Linked DNA regions of Homo sapiens. The protein of the gene in region 3 purifies or fractionates together with the protein of the main gene of each other region. This does not show direct contact. Each region holds a gene or a part of one and is shown on either strand. Other genes may lie near its edges. The genes, in order: PITRM1, RMND1 and DEFB104A.

The links.
Region 1: the proteins of DEFB104A (region 3) and PITRM1 purify together in Homo sapiens (affinity purification with mass spectrometry, with the first as the bait; 2 studies listed by BioGRID). This does not show direct contact.
Region 2: the proteins of DEFB104A (region 3) and RMND1 purify together in Homo sapiens (affinity purification with mass spectrometry, with the first as the bait; 2 studies listed by BioGRID). This does not show direct contact.

Annotation. Positions count from the first base shown.
Region 1 is NC_000010.11:3,166,107-3,169,858, forward strand, and holds part of PITRM1 (presequence protease, mitochondrial isoform 2 precursor), read right to left. Parts: intron 937-3,752; coding exon 830-936; intron 275-829; coding exon 123-274; intron 1-122. UniProt on the Homo sapiens protein: Metalloendopeptidase of the mitochondrial matrix that functions in peptide cleavage and degradation rather than in protein processing. Has an ATP-independent activity. Specifically cleaves peptides in the range of 5 to 65 residues.
Region 2 is NC_000006.12:151,417,459-151,421,210, forward strand, and holds part of RMND1 (required for meiotic nuclear division protein 1 homolog), read right to left. Parts: intron 1-3,752. UniProt on the Homo sapiens protein: Required for mitochondrial translation, possibly by coordinating the assembly or maintenance of the mitochondrial ribosome.
Region 3 is NC_000008.11:7,834,372-7,838,123, forward strand, and holds the start of DEFB104A (beta-defensin 104 precursor), read left to right. Parts: upstream 1-2,064; 5' UTR 2,065-2,113; coding exon 2,114-2,171; intron 2,172-3,752. UniProt on the Homo sapiens protein: Has antimicrobial activity. Synergistic effects with lysozyme and DEFB103.

The DNA.
Region 1 (3,752 bases), on a different chromosome or scaffold from region 3:
GTAAAAATTTTTCTAGAACATGAATTGCCCACTCCCCTCATTCCTTCTCAGAAACTAACTGAATTCCAGTGGGTGTGCCTGGCAAACCCAAAAGCAGTTTCTGTTCAGGATGCTGGTCTTACCTGTGAAGGCGTTCATGAACGTGGAGAGGGACCGGTTCAACATTTTGAAGAAAGGGTCTCTGCACGGATATTTCTGAGACCCACAAAGGACGGTATGCTCAAGAATGTGAGGAACACCAGTACTGTCCATGGGAGTAGTACGGAACTGCACGCTAGGGAAGGAGAATGACCAGAACGCAAAAGGTTCAGCTTAGTGCTGCGGACACAGTTCCCAGATGCATCATCACCTCAGGCTACTAGAAATCATCATTCTGACACCACAATCCTCCAGCACAGGGTTTTCCAACTATAATGTAAATCATTGACTCAGACTGTAAAATTGTATTTTGATGAGATTATAAGTCAGTGTAAACTTTTCCTTATTTTTCAAGATGCTCTGTCAATAAAAATACTAGTGAGATGATATTTTAAACCACGTAATGTATAGCCATGTTTTAAATCAAGCTTGTCCAACCCGCAGCCTGCAGCCCGCATGCTCAGGATGGCTTGAAATGCAGCCCAACACAAATTCATACACTTTCTTAAAACATTGAGGGGTCCTTTATTTATTATTTTTAGCTCATCAGCTGTCCTTAGTGTTAGTGTATTTTATGCGTGGCCTAAGACAGTTGTTCTTCTTCCATTGTGGCACAGGGAAGCCAAAAGAATGGACATTCCTGATTTAAATAAAAACATTCAAGACCATGTTCTTACAATGCACCACACACCTGAACAGATTATTCGTGTCTTCTCTGGCCAGGTGTAAATACCTGGCTCCTGTGTCATCATGGGTGAGCTTCACTGCAGTCAGGAACAGCTCGGGAACAGATGTCACCTGAGTTAACAAGAAAAACACGACCAGTTAAACTTAGACAAAATGGCCTTTGAAATGGTTATGTTCGACACACTGAGAAAACTGGCTTTTCTGCCTGAAATTAGATGATGCCGGGAAGGCAGTATTTCAGAGCTGGAGAGAAGAGAACCATCTTGTCCAGGTCCCTTATCCTACAAACAAGGAAAGACAGACCTAAAAAAGGCAGATGAGAATATGTGTGTGTGTGTATAGAAAGAGAGAGAGAGCGAGCGAGCGAGCGAGCGCGAGAGCGCACGCGCTTACTACTGGCTAGGTATTTTAGATTTTTTTATTTTTTAAATTTTTTATTCTTTTTTTGGCTAGGCATTTTCTAATCATGTCACATATAATCCTGTGAGGGAGGTATTCTCATACTCATTTACAGACGAAAAAACCGAGGCTCAGGGTGATGAAATAAGCTGCCTAAATCACAGAGCCAGGATTCACCCTGGTGTCTGCCCTTCCCATGGTACCATGCTGCACCTAAGTAACAGAGCGCCCTTTCCAATGTCTGCTGAGTGTCTCCTGCTTTTGTGTGCTGTGCCTCAGTAACACAGCGCCCCTTCCAATGTCTGCTGAGTGTCTCCTGCTTTTGTGTGCTGCGCCTCAGTAACACAGCACCCCTTCCAACGTTGGCTGTGTGTCTGTTTCTGTGCATATCATCTCCTGTAGTGCGCAGAACGGGCCTGCAAGGAGGGGAAATGCTAGAGTGGGCTAGCCTGCGACAGCAGGGAGAGGCTCTAGGATCAGCCTTTGCTTCTCTTAGTTTAGGATGGGTTCTCGGTGGTAGCTAGAAGCACAAAGCTGTGGCTTCCAGAACAGCTGGAGGGGCCGGGAGGATAGAAATGCCCACAAGACAGACGAAAGACTCCCCACTCCTGGGGCGGCGTGGAAGGTCATCTCCTACTTTAGGTAAGCCTCCTGGTAAGTGACCATACTCCTCGGTATGAAAGAAACTGTCTTCTCTTCCAGTCATGCCAGCCGGCCCTCTCCCTCAATCACACACCACGTCCCTGTGATCACCACACCACTCACCACCCCCTCCTGCCAGGTGCCATGAGTCACCTGGCCAAGCGCACACAGTAAGTCGCTGGCCAAGGTCAGACCTCGGGTCTCCTCAGCCCAATCTAGGGAGCCTGCCACGCAACAGTCATGCATAAAGCAGACCACTATGACCTGCATCATCTACCGCCGCGAAATTACTTCTGTTTCCAAGCTCACTGTACTTTGTAACAGATGATCAATGCTTTTGAAGTCAGCAGATACAGTGAGATGTTTGCTTTCTAATAATATATAGCTTTAATAATAATAGCTTTCATGGTAGCTATTTCTCAAACAAGAATCATGACTTATCGTAAGTTTCTATGGCTGGACACAGTGGCTCACACCTATAATCCCAGCACTTTGGAAGGCCAAGGTGATATGGTTTGGCTGTGTCCCCACCCAAATCTCATCTTGAATTGTAGTTTCCATAATCCCCACATGTTGTGGGAGGGACCTGGTGGGAGGTAATTGAATCAAGAGGGCGGTTTCCTCCATGTTATTCTCGTGACAGTGAGCACGTTCTCATGAGAGCTGACGGTTTTATAAGGGGCTTCCCCCTTCACTTGATCCTCATTCTCTCCCCTGCCGCCCTGTGAAGAGATGCCTTCCACCACGATTGTGTTTCCTGAGGCCTCCCCAGCCATGCAGAACTGTGAGTCAATTAAACCTCTTCACTTTTTAGCTCATACTTTATAAATTACCCAGTCTTGGGTATTTCTTCATAGCAGTGTGAGACTAGACTAATACACAAGCAAAAGGATTGCTTGAACCCAGGAGTTTGAGACCAGTCTAGGCAACAAAGTTTCCATCTACACACACACACACACACACACACACACACACACACACACACACACACACAATTAGCCAGGCGTGGTGGCACCTTGTCCCAGCTACTTGGCAAGAGGATCGCTTGAGCCCAGGAGTTCGAGGCTGCAGTGAGCCAAGATCATACCACCACACTCCAGCCTGGGCGACAGGGTGAGTCCCAGTCTCAAAAGTAAATACGTTTCTATAAAATTTGAGAAATAAAGGAGGAGAATCTACCGCTGTGGGTGAGGCCCTTATTAACAGTAACCTGTACCATAAACCCAAGTGTCTTTGCCTGGCCTTTGCAGGATTTCACAAACGCTCCAAGTCTTTTCATGAGTCCCATGCCTGGACCTTGTCTGGCGCACCCTAGTCACTGCCCTGGCTCCCTTGCTGGAGCCCTGACCGAAGGCAGCCACGTTCTCACACCACCCTCTCCAGGAGCTCTTCCCTCTGCCCCCAGCAGCAGCAGCTCCCACTCCTCCTCCTGCCCTTGTCCTTGGCCCTCCGCGTGGCGTCCACCATGTGCCTCCGGTCACAGCCGCAGCAGTCTTTCTAGACAGTAAGCTGTTTGTCTTTCACGTTTGCTATAACATCAAGCATAGCACAAAGCCAACAGCTGGCCAAATACATGAAGCGTGTCATTTTCAGTTACCATGCTAAATAGAAACAATGCAAAAGGTTTAGGCAAAATAACAAAACAAAAACCAAATGAATCTATTTTAATACAGACCCAAGTAAGTACAGGTCCACAATTGCTTCTTTATCATTCTGAAACCCGAATGGCTCAGAAAACTGAAAGGTTCTGCGGACGTTTAGAGCAAGCTATTTGATGGCAAAACCTGACTAAACAGATCAGGGCAGTGAGTCTTCATGCTCATGCTCAGTGAAACATCAGGTTTGGCTGCAGAAACGCTAGTGTGTCTGATTACAGAGACCCAGCT
Region 2 (3,752 bases), on a different chromosome or scaffold from region 3:
TGTATTTAATATTTACATAGTGCTTTATGAAAACTTTTTTTTTTTTGGTAAGAGAGAGGGTCTTGCTATGTTACCCGGGATGGAGTGCAGTGGTGTGATCACAACTCACTGCAAACTGAACTCCTGGGCTCAAGCTGTTCTCCTGCCTCAGCCTCCCATGTAGCTGGAACTACAGGCATGTGGCATTGCATGTGGCTGAAAACATTTGTTAATGCTGACCTTTGCAAAATACTGCCAACAAACATGTAAATAAAATTTACAAATGAGTTTCAAACTTCTGAACCAAATTAATTCAATCTTTAATACCAACATTATTTATGAAGTACACAGAAAAAAACTCATTTTGTTTTCAATTTTTTTTTTTTTTTTGAGACAGAGTCACTCTTGTCACCCAGGCTGGAGTACAATGGCATGATCTCAGCTCACTGCAACCTCTGCCTCCCAGATTTAAGCAATTCTCCTGCCTCAGCCTCCCAAGTAGCTGGGATTACAGGTGCCTACCATCACACCTGGCTAATTTTTTGTATTTTTAGTAAAGGGTTTTACCAAGTTGGCCAGGCTGGTCTCGAACTCCTGACCTCACGTGATCTGCCTACCTCAGCCTCCCAAAGTGCTGGGATTACAGGTGTGAGCCACCATTCCCAGCCTAAACTTTTTTTATTAAAAATTTTAGGGCCAGGCATGGTGGTTCATGCCTGTAATCCCAGCACTTTGGAAGGCCAAGGCGGGCAGATTGCTCGAGTCTGTGAGTTCAAGACCAACCTGGACAGCACAGCGAAACCCTATCTCTACAAAAAATACAAGAACTAGCCAGGTGTGGTGGTGTATGCCTGTAGTCCCAGCTACTTGGGAGGCTGAGGTGGGAGGATCATGTGAACCTCGGAGGCAGAGGCTGCAGTGAGCCAAGACTGTGACACTGTACTCCAGCCTAGGCAACATAGTGAGACCCCATCTCAAATAAAAAAAAAATTTAATATGTCCACACTTTTTTGTTTTTTATTTAAAAAATTTTTTTAGAGATAATGTCTTCATATGTCACCCAGTTTGGGGTGCAGTGACACAATCATAGCTTACCGCAGCCTCAAACTCCTGGGCTCAAGTGATCTTCCTGCCTCAGCCTCCTGAGCAGATCAAGATATAAACAGGTAAAAATTGATAAATCTTAACTCTTATTCTTATCTGTATCTTTCCCTATCAGTAATCCCTTCTAGTTTCCGCTGTATCCTTCCAGTGTTTATGCAAACACTAGACAAGCAAGCATAAACATACACACTCTCTCTCTTAATTTCTACATTTTAATATAAGAAGTCTGTGCTTACTTTTTTTTCTGAGACAGAGTTTTGTTCTTGTTGCCCAGGCTGGAGTGTATTGGCGCGATCTTGGCTCACCACAACCTCCACCTCTTGGGTTCAAGCAATTCTCCTGCCTCAGCCTCCCGAGTAGCTAGGATTACAGGCATGTGCCACCACGCCCGGCTAATTTTGTATTTTTAGTAAAGATGGGGTTTCTCCATGTTGGTCAGGCTGGTCTTGAACTCCTGACCTCAGATGATCCACTGGCCTCGGCCTCCCAAAGTGTTGGGATTACAGATGTGAGCCACCGTGCCCAGCCTTTTTCTTTTTTGAGACAGAATCTTGCTCTGTCGCCCAGGCTGGAGTGCAGTGGCATGATCCTGGCTCCACTGCAACCTTCGCCTCCTGGGTTCAACCAATTCTCATGCCTCAGCCTCCCAAGAAGCTGGGATTACAGGCGCACACCACCATTCCTGGCTAATTTTTGTATTTTTGGTAGAGATGGGGTTTCATCATGTTAGCCAGGCTGGTCTCGAGCTCCCAGCCTCAAGCAATCCACCTGTCTCAGCCTCCCAAAGTGCTGGCATTACAGGTGTGAGCCACCGTGCCTGGCCTTACACTTAGATGTTTAACTAAATAAAAATCTAAGTTATGAAAGTACACATAAACTGATGTGGTGGCTCACACCTGTAATCCCAGCACTTTGGGAGGCCTAGGGAGGAGGATTGCTTGAGCAAGGGTTTGAGACCCTGTCTCTACAAATTATTTTTAAAATTAGCTGGGTGTGGTGGAGCACTCCTGTGGTCCCAGCTACCCAGGAGGGTGAGGCAGGAGGAATCCCTGAGCCCAGGAGATCAAGGCTTTGGTGAGCTATGATCATGCCACTGCACTCTAGTCTGGGTGACAAGCAAGACCCTGTTTAAAAAAAAAAAAAAAAAAAGTAACACATACATACCTGTTCACGATTAAAAAAAAAAGGAAAATATCCTAGAGAAGGATTCAGAAAAATGGTAGGCTCTCTTATGCTACCACACTACTTAAATCCTTTATTCTCCCCAAGGACAGGCCTGTAGAGACACTTTGCTGTGTACTTCCAGATCTTTCTGTATTCATACATGCATGTGTGTGCAAGCAAACACATGTACATGTGTATGCATATAAAGATAAACATGAATATTTTTATTTGCTTACACAAATGGGATCATACCCTATATAAATTTAGATTTAGTTTTTTAATCTAATATTATCTGCCATGTTTATTTTCACAGATGTATCACATTCCTTATATTAACAAATAAGCATTTTTATTGTACAGGTAAGGAAACAGGATAGTAAAAGTAAGCCTTTATAGAAACTATTCACAAACCTACGTATATTTAGTCCTAACTATTCAGTTTGGATATTATAATTCACTACATCAATTTCTGCTTGCATGACCAAGAGAACAGGAGAGAAGAATCTCTCTACCCTACTTCTCAGAGAATTTGAGGCTTCAGATATGCTGCAGGATGCTCCTGATGGATGGGTTTTTAAGTTTTGTTGGTACCCTGAACTATAGGTCCTGAGCTATGAGAGATACACAGACAATGAAACACTGTATCACTTCTCTCCAGGCAGAGCATCTAAGGAGAATATGGAAAAACAAGTCTTAGGTGAACATTTGCAGTGAGCTCTGGTAACTCATTCCACATGCTAGAAGGGATAAACTGGACAATGCTGCCTGTGAGAAAAACACCAACATCCGGGATGTTTCATTCCGTAAATCCTGGGACAACTACAAGAATAATAAAAGCTGAAAACCTTTCCAGATACTTATTTAAAATGATTCATCAGTTTTTAGACATAGTTATTCCCATTTTAACATCTCGAGGCATCTTAAAATTAATGGTGTCTGACAGGTGGCACTTGAGACTTACTTGTCTTTGCCTTAAATAATTTATTTTCTTATGCTTTCCTTTTCATATATGCCCAAGAGGGAATGTGATATAATTTATATCCAGCTAAGATTAAAAGATATTTCAGTAAGTGTAAAATTTTAATCCTCTGATAAAAAAAGTATTGTCATAGTTTAACTGGCAGCAGTTTTTCTCTCCAGTGGCATCTTGGTGTCTCAGATTCAAAGAAACTTTTCTGTAGCAATTAAGCCTATTTAGCATTATGATGCAGTGATATATTTTTACAGAGAATTCCCATTAACCAAATTCAGGAATATGTCTTTCTACCTTCAAAGAACACCTACTGTGCTCCTTAATGTGGGTTTAATGTAGATGAATCGTGATCTCTTTTGCACATGCGTGATTTCTTTCAGTACAGTCTTAACACAGCCCAACTACTTCTAATGGGTAAGAGTTCTCCCTGCTTATAATCAATGAAATGAAAACAGCTACAGTTCCCATAAACGTGTAAATGTTTGCTCTTCACCACAGAACTATGGGAATGTTTTCTTGAGATTGTTAAATA
Region 3 (3,752 bases):
TTTTGAAGTTTGGTTATTCAGTCCCTGTATATGAATTACTTTTTTTTTTTTTTTGAAGAATTGCTGAATATTTATTATCATCAGAATTTTTCAGTTTTCTTCAGAATCCTGGTCACATAGATGACCTTGAATATTGGCTGATGTTTTTCCCTTGAAGCTCATCATCAAAAATTACTAAAGCCTGACATGTGGCAGGCTAGGAGGGTCCCATGGATCCTGCACATTTGTGCTTGCTGTGTGTCTGCTGTGAGGAGAGTATCCGACGGCCTCTACGTGCTGCACGTTTGTAACCTGCGGCAGGATTCCCATGGCTACCACTCTTGCCCTGGCTGCTTCCAGGCAGTGAATGAGCACAATGTGGACTAGAGCTGGGCCATGTCTGCTGGTGTAGGACAGTCTTTGCCCTGGGGTTCCCCACTGGCAATGCTGAAATTTTCTGCACTGTAGTCTGAGGCTCCCCCGACTCCAAACCTTTTCACAGGTGTTAATTGACATCATGTTCTGAAGACTTTCCCTACTCAATCTTGCTCCCTCTCCCCTTCATCTTTTTGTTTTGAATTTTTATTTTATTTTATTTTTTTCAGAGACAAGGTTTTGCTGTATTGCCTACTACACTGGAGTGCAGTAGTGCCATCATAGCTTACTGCAACCTCGAACTTCCGGGCTCAAGAGACCCCCCTGCCTCAGCCTCCCAAGTAGCTGGGACTACAGGGACACACCACCATCCCTGGCTAATTTTCTTTTTGTGTAGAGTCGGGGTCTCTCTATGCCGTCCATGATGGACTCAAACCCCTGAGCTCACATGATCCTCCTCCCTCGCTCAGCCTCCCCAAGTGCTGAGATTTACAGGTGTGAGCCACTGCGCCTGGCTCCCCTTTATCTTTCACAGGCATTTCCCAATAAATTTATTTCCTTTCTAATTCCTGTTGATAAATGCTTCATGGAGCACCCAAACTGGCATAGTTTATGATTTCTGATGTTCTATTCTATTTCGTTACTGTGAAAGGAGACCTGGTTTTCCATCACATTCTCCCCTAAGTGAGAACTCTGGGGAAGACACACTGACTGCTAGATTTTGCTTAGGATGTGCAAGCAACGTATGTCTGTCAGGCTTTGTCTAATCTGTGTTCTAGAATAAGGGGAGCTTATTCGAGAATGTCAACTTTCAAGATTGGACGTTTTTACTTTCTCTAAAGTACTTCATTTTAGAGAAATGAAGTATTTTTTTTTTCTTAAAATAAAATTATCTGGTGTTTTCCCTAAGGGCAAATGCCAGGAGCATATGCTCTATATGTTTTGCCTCGGGTGGGGTTGGGGTTAAATCCAGGGAGCATACACCCCGGGTTGAGGGCCAGGCGTATGCTCTCTGGAAGGTTATGTTTTATTTGAAGCCATTGTTAGAAATACAGCATTCTCATGAATTGTCTCCTTTTAACCTCTCTTCTCATTCTTGTCCTCCTTTTCACCTAAGCCCTAAGTGAGCCTGATGCTCTGTGGTTACAATCCCACCCTTGGACAATGCCCGCCATCAAGTATTCCTTGTTGTCACTTGTCATCCTCATCCTACACTCTTTCTATCACAGAAATGTCCTGGGACCTTTCACGCATTTATGACCTCCCCACGCTCCATGCCATTCTTCTCCTTGACATTGTATGTTTGTTTCAATGTTTACTTCAGAGAGGTCTTGGGGGCTATGGACTTCAATTCCATTAGCCACATCACAATTTTCAACAAGAATCTCCTGACTGAAATGTACTGAAATGGAAGAGAAAGTCCTCTCACCAGAATTGAGGAATGTCAAGGCTGGAAGGTATCTTAGAGATCATCTAATCCAGTTCTTGCTTCAGAAACGATTCAGGGAAGCAAGTGAAGTGACTTGGACTTTACCTATGGTAATACTCTCTCCCCACCCTCAACACTGCCCAGCTGGCATTTCTGTAGCCCCAACACCTCCCCCACACTGTGCCTTGGTGAGTGTTCACCAAGGAACGCTGCATTTTGATAAGCCTCAGTAATCAAGAGCAGCCTCTGCCCATAAATACACCTGCCCTGCTCCTGCCTGGGGTGATTCCCTCCGACTTGCGTCTGCTTCTCGCCAGCAGCCCCAGCATTATGCAGAGACTTGTGCTGCTATTAGCCATTTCTCTTCTACTCTATCAAGATCTTCCAGGTAAAAAGGGACTCTCAGCTGGAAATATACACAGTTGCTGGGGATGACAGGGGGAGAAGAAAAACATTTGATTTAGAAAATAAATCCTGAAGGATGGAGTAACCTTCTTCAATCTCAGCCTTTTTTCTCTTTGCTTTCATTGGGTCCATTAGTAAAATGCAGTATGTGGCAGTCCTTGTATGCACCTTACAGCCACGAGGCTTACTAGCTCAAGGAGGAAAAAAGAAACGTAGGGATCAGGAGTCCTAGATGTCCTTGGCACCCTGGCCACACACGGTAACAATTCCTCATGGAATCCTCAGCAATGAGGACTCACTAGCCATGCTTGTTCCATTGCAGGGCAACAGCAATTATTCATTGTTGATTTTGTAGAATAAGATGCCTTCCCCCATCCTCCTCCTTCTGAACAGCTTTACTCTGCACAGAAAAGGGCGCCTACTCATCCTCCTAAATTTTGCAACTTTTCATATCAAGTCAGATGATTAGGGTTAAAGGGGATGCAGTGATTTCAGTAGGCAAGAACGTAATTTACTGACAACACAAATAGCAGGTGCCTTTGAACTCTGCTCAGGAAATTTTAGACTGAGATGTCAGCAATCTTCTGACTCCTACGTTAATCTATGTCCCCAGAAGCATGTATTTCTTAATATATTTGCAATGGATATGAGAGAGCACCTAATCTAATTCCCTTCTTTTACAAGCTGAGCAGCATTCTCTATGGTACAGTGAGAGAAAATAAGATTTTTAGAGTTGCTTAACAAGTCTAGCAGTGCTGGGACGAAACCAATTGTTTTGACTCGTAGAAGCCATCGGATCTTCTCTTCCAAGCTGCTCAGTCAATTTTATGGGGCTTTGACAGACACCCAGCACCCATCTTTTTGCCCTTCCGGGCTGTGCCTCCACTGTGATTCAGATGGGTTAATGATTTTTTTTCAGAGGGTACCTGTTTAGGTTAACTCTTCCTTTTTCTTTCTTCCCGTGTCATTTCCCAAAGACACTTCTGTGAAATTCTGCTATGGGCATGTTCCAGGTCTGTTAAAATATGATAGCAATTTATCAAAGAACAGGTTTTCTTCAACCTTTGATCCCAAGACAAAGAACTTGGGATGGAAAGCCTGGGTCAGGGATCCCTCCAGATCCCGAAGAATGCACCGCAGAGCTGGCTGCCATTATCCACACTTGGCTGCAGAGGGCTGGGTCAGACTGTCCTCTGCAGTTGAATTCTGAGAAAGACCATTAGCAGGAAGAGGATTAGGGAGGGAAGTGGCAGAAGTGGGTGAGGGTGAATGACATGCGCTGCCTGCCTCTTCTCCTGCCACCCCTGCTTTGGGTAAGTTTGGCTGTCACACACTGTCAGCCCCTCAGATACCCACAGGGACTGGGGATGGGTGCTGTCAACCAAAAATAAAATTCTAAGCCCCCTCCCCAACCATCTAAATGGACTCCCTCCTCAGCCAGGGCTCTTAAAATTTAATCTGAAAGACTGCTTCAGGCCATGAAAGGAAGTGGGGGTTGGACATGCCTCATTACACTTTCCATCATGAACATCAACACAGACTTTAAGTGTGATAAGAAACATTT